Regions from separate parts of the Homo sapiens genome. Here region 1 is linked to region 2. The links come from fine-mapping of genetic effects on gene expression. A gene starts in region 2. The other region holds a variant in brackets. All regions are shown on one strand. Distances are between the middles of the regions. Region 1 overlaps KLHL22 (kelch like family member 22). Region 2 holds the start of MED15 (mediator complex subunit 15).

Evidence for each region. PIP is the estimated chance that this variant, and not a neighbour inherited with it, causes the effect.
Region 1: its variant is fine-mapped to the expression of MED15 in whole blood (TOPMed, PIP 0.98).

Annotation. Positions count from the first base shown.
Region 1 is chr22:20,452,809-20,458,181 of GRCh38, forward strand. It overlaps KLHL22 (kelch like family member 22), which reads right to left. Exons shown (of 7, transcript NM_032775.4): 5 at 5,000-5,192. It also overlaps the pseudogene KLHL12P1. Among named protein-coding and RNA genes, the nearest start is that of SCARF2, 18 kb to the left of the region's middle. RefSeq lists enhancers at 2,538-2,707, 3,456-3,957. The variant C/T (reference allele first, on the strand shown) is at 2,364.
Region 2 is chr22:20,505,105-20,510,458 of GRCh38, forward strand. MED15 (mediator complex subunit 15) reads left to right here and starts at 2,506. Exons shown (of 18, transcript NM_001003891.3): 1 at 2,506-2,642. The coding sequence starts at 2,575. RefSeq lists enhancers at 110-609, 2,489-2,598.

The DNA.
Region 1 (5,373 bases), 52 kb before region 2:
AGTGACAGTAGCCTAGTAGTTCAGCTACCTGATTACTGCCCCATTCTTTTAGAAGCACACTTCTGCCAAGGAGTGGTTTGTACTGCTGTGATTGGTACATTTAGTCTTTTTTCTGCTATAAGTTTTCCTTACCTGTCCTTTAGTGTAGATTTTATTCATTACAGGACAGAATAATCAAGGACAACCAAAATCCTTTTGTTAGTTTCAGTACCTCAGCTATCAACATTTCTGAGCTATCATTCAATGTTCCTCTGTGTCATGGAGTGAAATTCTTGTTTTATGGGTATTGGGAGTGTGGGAATGTGATAACCTAAACAACCTTTGCTCTGAAATTCCATTTTTCCCTCTTTCCCTGAAGTGTACTGACCTGTACTACAGAGTTAATTTCTTTTGTATTTTTTTAAGAAAATATTAAAAATCAATGGTCTCAAAAAAAAAAGATTTTCTTCTTCTTTTTTTCTAGAAGTTTTATGGTTTTACATTTAACTCCATAAACCATTTTGAATTCATTTTGGTATATGGTATGAGACTTGGGTTGATATCCATTTTTTTGCCGACGCATGTCTAATTGCTCCAGTACTATTTGCTGAAAGATATCTTTCCTCCACTCAATTGTTTCTGCACCTTTGTCCAAAATCATGTGTAACATGACTGGGCATATTTACTCAGGTCTGTGGGTTTTCCATTCTGTTTCACTGATCTATGTGTCTATCACTGTATCCATACCACAGCCTTGATTACTGTAGCTATGTAGTAATCTTGAAATTGGGCAGACTCCTCCCATCTTATCGTTCTTTTTCAAAATTATTTGAGCTATTCTAGTTCCTTTGCCTTTATATATACATTTCAGAATAATCTCATTTACATCTAATGTCACAAGTAAAATCAAATCAAAATTAAAAAATTTATTTTATTTATTTTGAAATTTATTTTATTATTATTTTTTGAGACAGTCTCACTCTGTCGCCCAGGCTGGAGTGCAGTGGCGCAATCTCGGCTCATTGCAACCTCTGCCTCCTGGGTTCAATCCATTCTTGTGCCTCAGCCTCCCCAGTAGCTGGGATTACAGGTGTGTGCCACCACACCCAGCTAATATTTGTATTTTTAGTAGAGATGGGGTTTCACCATGTTGGCCAGGCTGGTCTTGAACTCCTGACCTCAAGCGATACACCATCCTCGGCCTCCCAAAGTGCTGGGATTACAGACGTGAGCCACTGCGACCAGCAATAAAAAAAAATTTTAGGCTGGATGTGATGGCTCACTTCTCTAATCCCTGCACTTTGGCCGAGGCAGACAGATCCCTTGAGACCAGGGGTTCAAGAACAGCCTGGGCAATATGGTGAAACCTTCATGATACTAAAAATATAAATATTAGCTGGGCATGGTGGTGCTCACCTGTAATCCCAGCTACTTGGGAGGCTGAGGCAGGAGGATCACTTGAACCAGGGAGGCAGAGGTTGCAGTGAGCCGGGGTCATGCCACTGCACTCCAGCCTGGGTGACAGAGCGAGACTCTGTCTCAAAAAAAATAAAAATAAAAAAATTTTTAAAAAGCTTATTGTGCATGTAAAAGAAGAGTTCATGAACCAGGAAACCCCAAACTGGAAGTGGTATGAAGCCCCAATTCACAGCAGTTACAACACAGTTTATAAAGCATGAATGAGGAAGAATATTGTTCCCTACTGTGCATGTGGAGCTGCATAAGCTTTCTTTGTAAAGCTATCACACTGAGGGAGGAAAGCTTAAGTTTCAGTTACATGGCTACAGGCAGTTGGCCTAGGGGTATATCCAAACCTCAGCTTCAATTTTCATTTTCCCTTAATAGTACAAAAAACCTTCCTGAAATTTTGATAGGAATACTAGTATTCCTGTATTAATACTATATCAATATGAGGAATTCTGTATTAATATATGTATTATTAATTGGGTTGGGAAAGAACTGACATTCTTACTATTCTTACTCTTCCAATCCATGGACTTGGTATGTCTCTCCATCTATTCACATCTTCTTTTATTTCTTTCATCGGCTTTTTGTAATATTCAGTGTACCAATCCTGTGAGGTTTTTTGTTTGTTTGTTTTGAGACGGAGTCTTGGCAGAGTCTTGCTCTGTTGCCCAGGCTGGAATGCAGTGGTGTGATCTCAGCTCACTACAACCTCTGCCTCCCGGGTTCACGCCATTCTCCTGCCTCAGCCTCCTGAGTAGCTGGGACTATAGGCGCCTGCCACCATGCTCAGCTAATTTTTGTATTTTTAGTAGAGATGGGGTTTTACCATGTTGGCCAGGCTGGTCTTGAACTCCTGACCTCAGGTGATCCCCCCCGCCTGGGCCTCCCAAAGTGCTGGGATTACAGACGTGAGCCAC[C/T]GCGCCCTGCCAACATGACCTATCCTTTTTCATTCCCCAACATCTGATCCATCAGCAAGCCTGATCAGTTTACCTCCACGCTACACTCTGAACCCTCCCATCTCCCTCCAGCTCCACAGCTGTGTGCCAGCACAGGCTACTGCTGTCTTCAGCCCAGACCACGCAATGACCCAGGGCCAGCCTCGCTTGCTCTGCTCTTGATCCTTGGGCTTCCTTCTTCTACAAGCATGCCCCATGCTTCCTCTCCTGCTCAGGAAAAGCTGTGAGCCCCTCTCCTGCCCTGGAAGGTCCTTCTGCTAGACTAGGCAGATGGTTAGATATGAGCAGGGAAGTGGACTCCAGGTTGGCCTCAGCCCCTAGCATGGCCAGAGGGACTATGACCTCTGAGACATGTTAACCACACCTGGGGTTTCAAAAGTCCCAACCCCTCTTTCAGTTAAGCTTATCCAGCTCAAGTAGGAACTAACCCCACAAGGAACTTTCCACCCCCGGGAGCCTGTGTTGTATAGTTTGCCCCAGTTTTGCTTGCTTCGAAAGTAACCTTTTGTTCACTGCAGTGGTAAAAAACACACCTCCTGGGTGAAGATTTAAGATGCTAATGAGACATGCGATAAATACACTAGCACGTAGAGCCACAGTGCATGCGCTGCTAGAAGACCACCCAAACAAAACATGCTTATGAGTAACACCTCTTCCCGCCCATTTATGAATAATCATGTAAGCCTCCTGTAAGGGAGGTTTCCCATGCCAGTTGGGGCGATCTTATTCTGGAGCAGCCTGCTCTGACTCGGCCTTCAGAATGTACCTTCACTTTTGCAATAAACTGCCTTACACTTATCTTCGTTAATGCATGTCTCTTGCTTAAAGTCTTAACCAAGAAGACAAGAACCGAGGACACATTCCCAGTAACATTTCCTCCCTCTGTAAATGGCAGGTCTAATTGACATCTCCTCAGATGGACATTCCCCAAAAAGTCCCTCTAGATTCATCCTACCAGAGCCCCCTCCCTGGAAATCCTCCAGTTCAGCCCCCTCTTCATTTCACTTACCATAATTGTAACCACTTTACTGATCTGTTTTCTGGTTAAGAGTGGTTTCTCCTACAAGGCTGTAAACACCATGGAGTGGGGAGTCTTTCTCATTTCTTGTCACCACTGGATTCCCAGGACTTGGTACATGGTGCTTAGTAGTTGCGGAATGAATGCGTGCATGAAGGAACACCGGCAGCCACGATGCAGCTGGTTGAAAGCCAAGGCTGCCCCTCTGTGGCCAAGCTGGAGAACTGCTGCTTCCCCAGCTGCCGCAGACAAAGAAACTGCTAAGCCCCTCCCACAACACCCACCTAGGAGGCTTCCCCCAACACCCTTCCTGGAACAGAACCCAAGAGCCCTCCTTGTCCACTTGGTCTCAAGGACCTCCTGATCTTCTCCATGCAAAATCTGCTCCTTTCCCCAGGATGGGGGTACGGAGTGTCCTTCCAAAGAGGCTTCCTTCTCCCCAAAGAAGCTGAGAGCAAGGAGCAGGCCACAGCTTGCAGCTCACAGCTGCCCAAGAGACAGAAATCTGTGTGGGCTGTGTGAATGACCTGGATAAAGAAGAGCTGGATCCATTGAGGAGACACTAGCCCTGACCCCTGAAGTCAAAGTCTAAGTCCCTGGGGGAATTGGGGGTCATGAGAGATACTGGAAAGAGGCTTACAAAGGCCAGAGCTCTTGCTAAACTCCCTGAGGCAGTGCAGGTAGAACCTGCCCCCCATACCATCCTCTGCCTCTCAGGTGCTCGGTTATCCCCAAAGGTGTACCTGGCCCATAGCAGGTGCTCCACAAATGCTATGCCAGTACTAGCGGGGTGCCCTGCTAGGGTACCCCTAGTACTGCTAGGGTATGCCCTGTTCTCGGAGGCTGAGACCCAGGAAGTAGGGGGCCAGCAAGGCCTGTTCCTTCCCTGGGATCCCATGTCTGGTTGTTACACCAGGCCTGAGTACCCCAAAGTCGTAAGATAAAAGAGAGGCACCTCCCTAAAACATCATTTTTCCATAATGAACATAATTTTAAACATCTTCAAATTGGAATAAACCAAGGTATTATATAGGATGCACGTGATTTTTTTTTCAAGTTGTCCCAATATTCAAACATAGGATTTAATATAAAAAATAAAACCTTAGAGTGTTTCTTGGCTCTGGAAGGCGCCACCCTTCAGGGGACCTAGAGGGAAGAGGTCTGAGGATAGGCCAGTGAGCTCTCAGGGTCCCTTCCTGTTTAACATCTCTGGAAGTGTCCCAGCTCGTCTCAGCTGCACAAAGAGCAAATGTTCTATCCACATTTGAACTACAAGGTTTAAGCAGCTTGCCAGGGCCAAGGTGGTGTGACAAGGTCTCAGCATGTAAGACTCACAAGTGGGGCACAATTCTGAGCAATGGGGTCTGGATCCTTGATGAGCCTCCCCAGGTGGACTGGCTGAACCTCATGGGGCCTCATCAATGCATTCAATGCAGGGTCTCTGGAGAAGCATGGATTCTGCTCACTGAGCCTGTTTCTCTGACCTGGGACAGGCCTTGACACCTAGGCCTCTCACTCTTTGCACATCCTGGGGAAGGAAATTAGGCAGGAGAAGGCCCCTCTTCGAGGGCTTCCTTACCTCCCTCTTGAGTGGGGCCACGTATGCCCAGGAGTTGGTGGCAGGGTCGTAGCGCTCCACAGCATTCAGGTCATTGTGGTAGTCACGGCCCGCCACAGCGTAGATGTACCTGCCTACAACACACACGGACAGGTCGGCGTGCTCCTGCTGCAGGGACTGGATCTGGAACCAGCGGTTGTGCCGTGGGTCATACCTGTGCCGAGACATGAGGAAAGCACAGCACTGACTAGGCAGGGAGGCTGCTCCGCAGGCTTGCACCTCTTGTTCTGGTCCCATTTCTGCTTTGCCTCAGCCCAGCCTGAACCCTCCCCAACTACCCCACATACCAGTGCACACCGATCTACAGCCAGGCCCACAGGCTGTTACACACCTGA
Region 2 (5,354 bases):
ATAAAATACAAAAATGAGTCGGGCGTGGTGGCGCACTGTAGTCCCAGCTACTGGGGAGGCTGAGGCACGAGAATCACTTGAACCCCGGATGGCGGGGACTGCAGTAAGCGATCACGCCACTGCACTCAAGCCTGGCAGACCTAGCGAGACTCTGTCTCAAAAAAAAAGAAAACAAGGCTGGGCGTGGTGGCTCACGCCTGTAATCCCAACACTTTGGGAGGCCAAGGCGGGTGGATCGCCAGGTCAGGAGATTGAGAACATCCTGGCCAACATGGTGAAACCCTGTCTCCACCAAAAATACAAAAATTAGCCAGATGTGGTGCCAGGTGCTTGTAGTCCCAGCTACTCAGGAGGCTGAGGCAGGAGAATCACTTGAACCTGAGAGGCGGAGGATGCAGTGAGCTGAGATTGCGCCACTGCACTCCAGCTTGGGCGACAGAGTGAGACTCTGTCTCAAAAAAAAAAAAAAAAAAAAAAAAAAAAAAACCAAGGGCCGGGCGCGGTGGCTCACGCCTGTAATCCCAGCAATTTGGGAGGCCGAGGCAGGCGGATCATGAGGTCAGGAGATCGAGACCATCCTGGCTAACACGGTGAAACCCTGTCTCTACTAAAAATACAAAAAAATTAGCTGGGCGTGGTGGCGGGCGCCTGTAGTCCCAGCTACTTGGGAGGCTGAGGCAGGAGAATGGCGTGAACCCGGGAGGCGGAGCTTGCAGTGAGCCAAGATTGTGCCACTGCACTCCAGCCTGGGCAACAGAGCAAGACTCCATCTCAAAAAACAAACAAACAAACAACAACAACAAAATAAAACAAGGAAAAAAACACTAAAACCTTGGATGTCCTGGGCAACCCCGGTCAAGATGATCACTCTAGATAGAGTTTTTAAAAATTAGTTTTCAGCCTGGCCAAGATGGTGAAACCCTGTCTCTACTAAGGATACAAAAAATTAGCTGGGCTTCGTAGCAGGCACCTGTAATCCCAGCTACTTGGGAGGCTGAGGCAGGAGAATCACTTGAACCCGGGAGGCAGAGGTTGCAGTGAGCCGAGATGTCACCACAGCACTCCAGTCTGGGCAACAGGGCGAGACTCCATCTCAAAAAAAAAAAATTAGTTTTGCCACCGGGCACGGTGGCTCATGCCTGTAATCCCAGCACTTTGGGAGGCCGAGGTAGGTGGATCACCTGAGGTCAGGAGTTCGAGACCAGCCTGGCCAACGTGGTGAAACCCTGTCTCTACTAAAAATACAAAAATTAGCCAGGCATGGTGGGGTACGCTTGTAATCCCAGCTACTGGGGAAGCTGAGGTGGGAGAATTGCGTGAACCCGGGAGACAGAGGTTGCAGTGAGCCGAGATGGCACCACTGCACTCCAGCCTGGCCAACAAGGGCTAAATTCTATCCCCCCCCCCTCAAAAAAAACAATAACGATTTTGGGAGTATTAGAGCAGAAAACGTTTGAAAACATGAACAGCTCTCACATCAACACAAGACATGAAACTCTGTTGGCAAGAGAGGCCTCTTTGGGGAGAGTGCTCACTCCTCTCCCACCCACTCTCTACCACCTTCAACCTCCTGTCTGGGGCACAGTAACAAGGGGTGTAAGGGGTGTACAGTGCCTAGCAGGGGCCTGGCACTTAGGCTTCAGTAGGTGCCAGTCCACAGTCTCCTGAGGCCCATGTTGGTTGGTGTCCACCTGGTGCTTATTGACCACTTGGGCTCCAGATTTTCCTCACGTCACCTCCCTCCCCAGGGTAGCAGATAAAGGCCCCATAGTTCCAAGGAGGCAGAACTTTTACATTCCTAAAAGCATTCTCAGGCCCCCATAACCCCTCATCCCACCTTCAGCTCGCTCACCTTCACCTATCAAATTCGTTTGACATCTGGCCTCCAGCAACTAGCTAGGCTGAGTTCTCCATGAAGGGGACGTGGCTGCTGGTCAAAAGGGAAAGCCCATGTCTAAAAATTAATTAACGTGGTTTAGGGGCCTCACATTCCCAACCCCCAAATACAGCCATTGTGAGATGTGAGATTCAAAAAATCGAAGAGTGAAGCGGTGATGAGAGTCCATCTGGTCGCTCTTCGGATGCGGCGCTAGCAGGCAGTTGCATGAAAGCAGATCCCAGATCACGTTGCACTGGCACACAGTAGGTACCCACACATATTTGATAAATAAACACTCTCTCCCTAGCATTACTATAGATAGCTGGCAGCTTGGCCTGGCATCCCGGAGGGGTCTGGATCTCAGGGACTAGATAAGGCCAGCACACTGAAGAGTTGCAGAAAATGCAGGCGGTCAGGCGCAGGTCTGCTGCGGGAGCACCTGCCGTGTCCGACAGCTGCACTGGAAGAGGGGCGTGTGTCTCCCAGCCGGGCGGAACCGAGACCGCTTCGTCCCCGGCGGGGAACTTCATTTCCCACAAGCCTGTGCGCGAGACTCCATTTCCCACAAGCCCTCCTTCACTTCCGGCTCGGCCGAGGCACTGCGGACGGCTTCCGGGTTTGGGCCTGGCTCTGTGACTGAGGCGGCGGCGGTGGCGGCCAAGCGGGATACGGGCGGCGGGAGCTGGGGAACAGGCATGGACGTTTCCGGGCAAGAGACCGACTGGCGGAGCACCGCCTTCCGGCAGAAGCTGGTCAGTCAAATGTGAGTAGTGGTCGGGGCAGGGGGCTGGATTGTGGGACCTTCCTCCTTAGCGTGGCGGGCGAGGCCAGGGCCGGACCCGTGAGAAACCTACGGCGCCGGGAGACAGAAGGCGCCGGGGACTTGCGTGGGTCCCAGGGCTCGGGCCCCCCCGTCTGTCCCCTCCGTTCCCGACATGGACTGCTCGTTTGCTTTCCTGGGGCCGAGCTCTGCAAACCAACGAGCCCTGGCTTATGAATCATCGTCTTGAGCTTTCTCATTCGTCATTTGTGTGCTTTGGGTGCAGACTTTCCCCCGCTTTTTGAACCACACTGAATAGGGAAAGGGAGAGAAGCAGCCGGCTGTAGTGGGTTTAGCAGGGCTGGGTGCTTCATGGTTTCTCTTCCAGAAAAGCGCATCAACGGTGAAAGAAAGTGATGGGAGGAGGGTGGATGTAAGATGAGATTGGGAAGGTAGTTGTTTGGGGTGTGGGCGGTGGGACGGAGGATCTGAGGGTGACCCCCCGAAGGAATGTGGACTTTGCCGAAGGATGGCAGGAAGCCGCTGTCAGGAAGCGATCGTCGTTTCTGGAGGAGAGCGTGAAGAGCTGGGGTCAGTGGCCCCGCTCAGAGGAACTCTAGCCCCTCACCACCGACTGCTTGTTTCTGTTAGCAGTTTTTTTCATGCGCGTCCGTGTGAAGAGACCACCAAACAGGCTTTGTGTGAGCAATAAAGCTGTTTATTTCACCTGGGTGCAGGTGGGCTGAGTCCGAAAAGAGAGTCAGCGAAGGGAGATAGGGGTGGGGTCGTTTTATAGGATTTGGGAAGGTAATGGAAAATTAGTCAATTGTTCTCTGGTGGGCAGGGATGGATCTCACAAAGTACATTCTCAAGGGTGGGGAGAATTACAAAGAACCTTCTTAAGGGTGGGGGAGATTACAAAGTACATTGATCAGTTAGGGTGGGGCAGGAACAAATCACAATGGTGGAATGTCATCAGTTACGGCTGTTTTTACTTCTTTTGTGGATCTTCAGTTACTTCAGGCCATCTGGATGTATACGTGCAAGTCACAGGGGATGCGATGGCCTGGCCTGGGCTCAGAGGCCTGACAGTTTTTAACTGAGCTTATTGGCGTGTTGTGCTCGCCACAGATTTGCCTGAGACACAGCCCCTTTCCTGAGGGATGGTAAAGGAACCGTCACAGCGCAGTCTTGTCAGTCTGTAATGTGTATACTGCAGGGGTTTCTTGCGAAGCGGCGGTTAACTTGAGCAGACCAGGGGCAGTCTAGTGAGTAGGTGACGAATAAATTGAGTCCTAGAAAGACAAGTAGGAGTGTGAATAGCCACCATTCCAAGCTGAGGAGTTAGGAAACATGAGCATTTACTGCGTGGAGGGAGGATCTTGTAGGCTGAGAGTTCTGGGGCTCGAGGAGTAAGAGAGCCCAGGAGATGATGGAATGAGGGTGAGCAGGTACTAGCACTTTAGTGGGGGTGTTGTGCCAAGGAATTGAGCCTGTGTTTGGCATGTGGCATTCTTTGGAGTAGTGAAATGCCAGTGTTGGGAATATGCCTAGAGTCCCTGTCCCTGGAGATGGATGCAGGGCAGAGAAGAGAGACCAGTTAAGCTATTAAGAGAGTTTGAACATTTGGAGGGAGTAGGGAACCTGTCCTTTTTCATCCTTATATTCTCACTGCTAGCTCACTGCCTGCCACATTGCTCCGTAAAATGATTGTGGCATGACCTAGTCGGGCGGGAGATTATAAAGGCCTGCATTAGACAGTGGTAGAAACTGAAAGAGGAAGACAGATTCCAGAGGAGGGGGAACGTAGACAATTCTTGATGACTAACTGGATGGAGGGGGGTGGGGTGTGGGGTGAAGCATTGTGGAAGGAAGGAAGCCGGGCTGAATGCTGGGAAACCTTTCAGTACAGTGGAAAGAGTAGGGACTGTAGAGTTAGTAGCTATGGGCTTTGGGAAGAATAGCCTTGGGATATTTCTGGGGATATTGCACAATCAGTGAACAGTGTTTTACTGATAAAATATAGTTATCTGTAGGTGAAAACTTGAGAGATATCCCACTTCAGGGTTCCTGCAAGAAAAGTCCCCAGGGCAAGGGTTCTTCTCTGGGAAAGCCCAGAATTAAGAACTGGAAGGGTGAGTTGTCATCAAAGAAAATGGGGGTAGGGGAAGTGTTAAGAGGGCTGGGAGGGTGATTGAAGAGTTTATGGGTGTTGAGTGACTGGATACTTCATAACTCAGCTTTATTTTGCTTCCGGGAGAATTGAGTTCTTTATTTTTTTCGATATTGCTGTTTGTGTGTTTTTCTGTTGCCGCTCTAACAAATTACCACAAGTTTAGCATCTTAAAACAACACACCTTTAGCCAGGTGTGGTGGCTCACGCCTGTAATCCCAGCACTTTGGGAGACTGAGGCAGGCGGATCACGAGGTCAAGAGACTGAGACCCATCCTGGCCAACACGGTGAAACCCTATCTCTACTAAAAATCCAAAAATTAGCTGGGTGTGATGGCGCACACCTGTAGTCCCAGCTACTCAAGAGTCTGAGGCAGGAGAATTGCTTGAACCCGGGAGGCGGAGGTTGCAGTGAGCCGAGATCGCACCACTGCTATCCCGCCTAGTGACAGAGCGAGACTCCATCTCAAAAACAAACAAACAAAAAACACACATTTATCATTTGGTAGTTTCTGTAGGTCAGAGGTCCAAGTAGGTTCCAC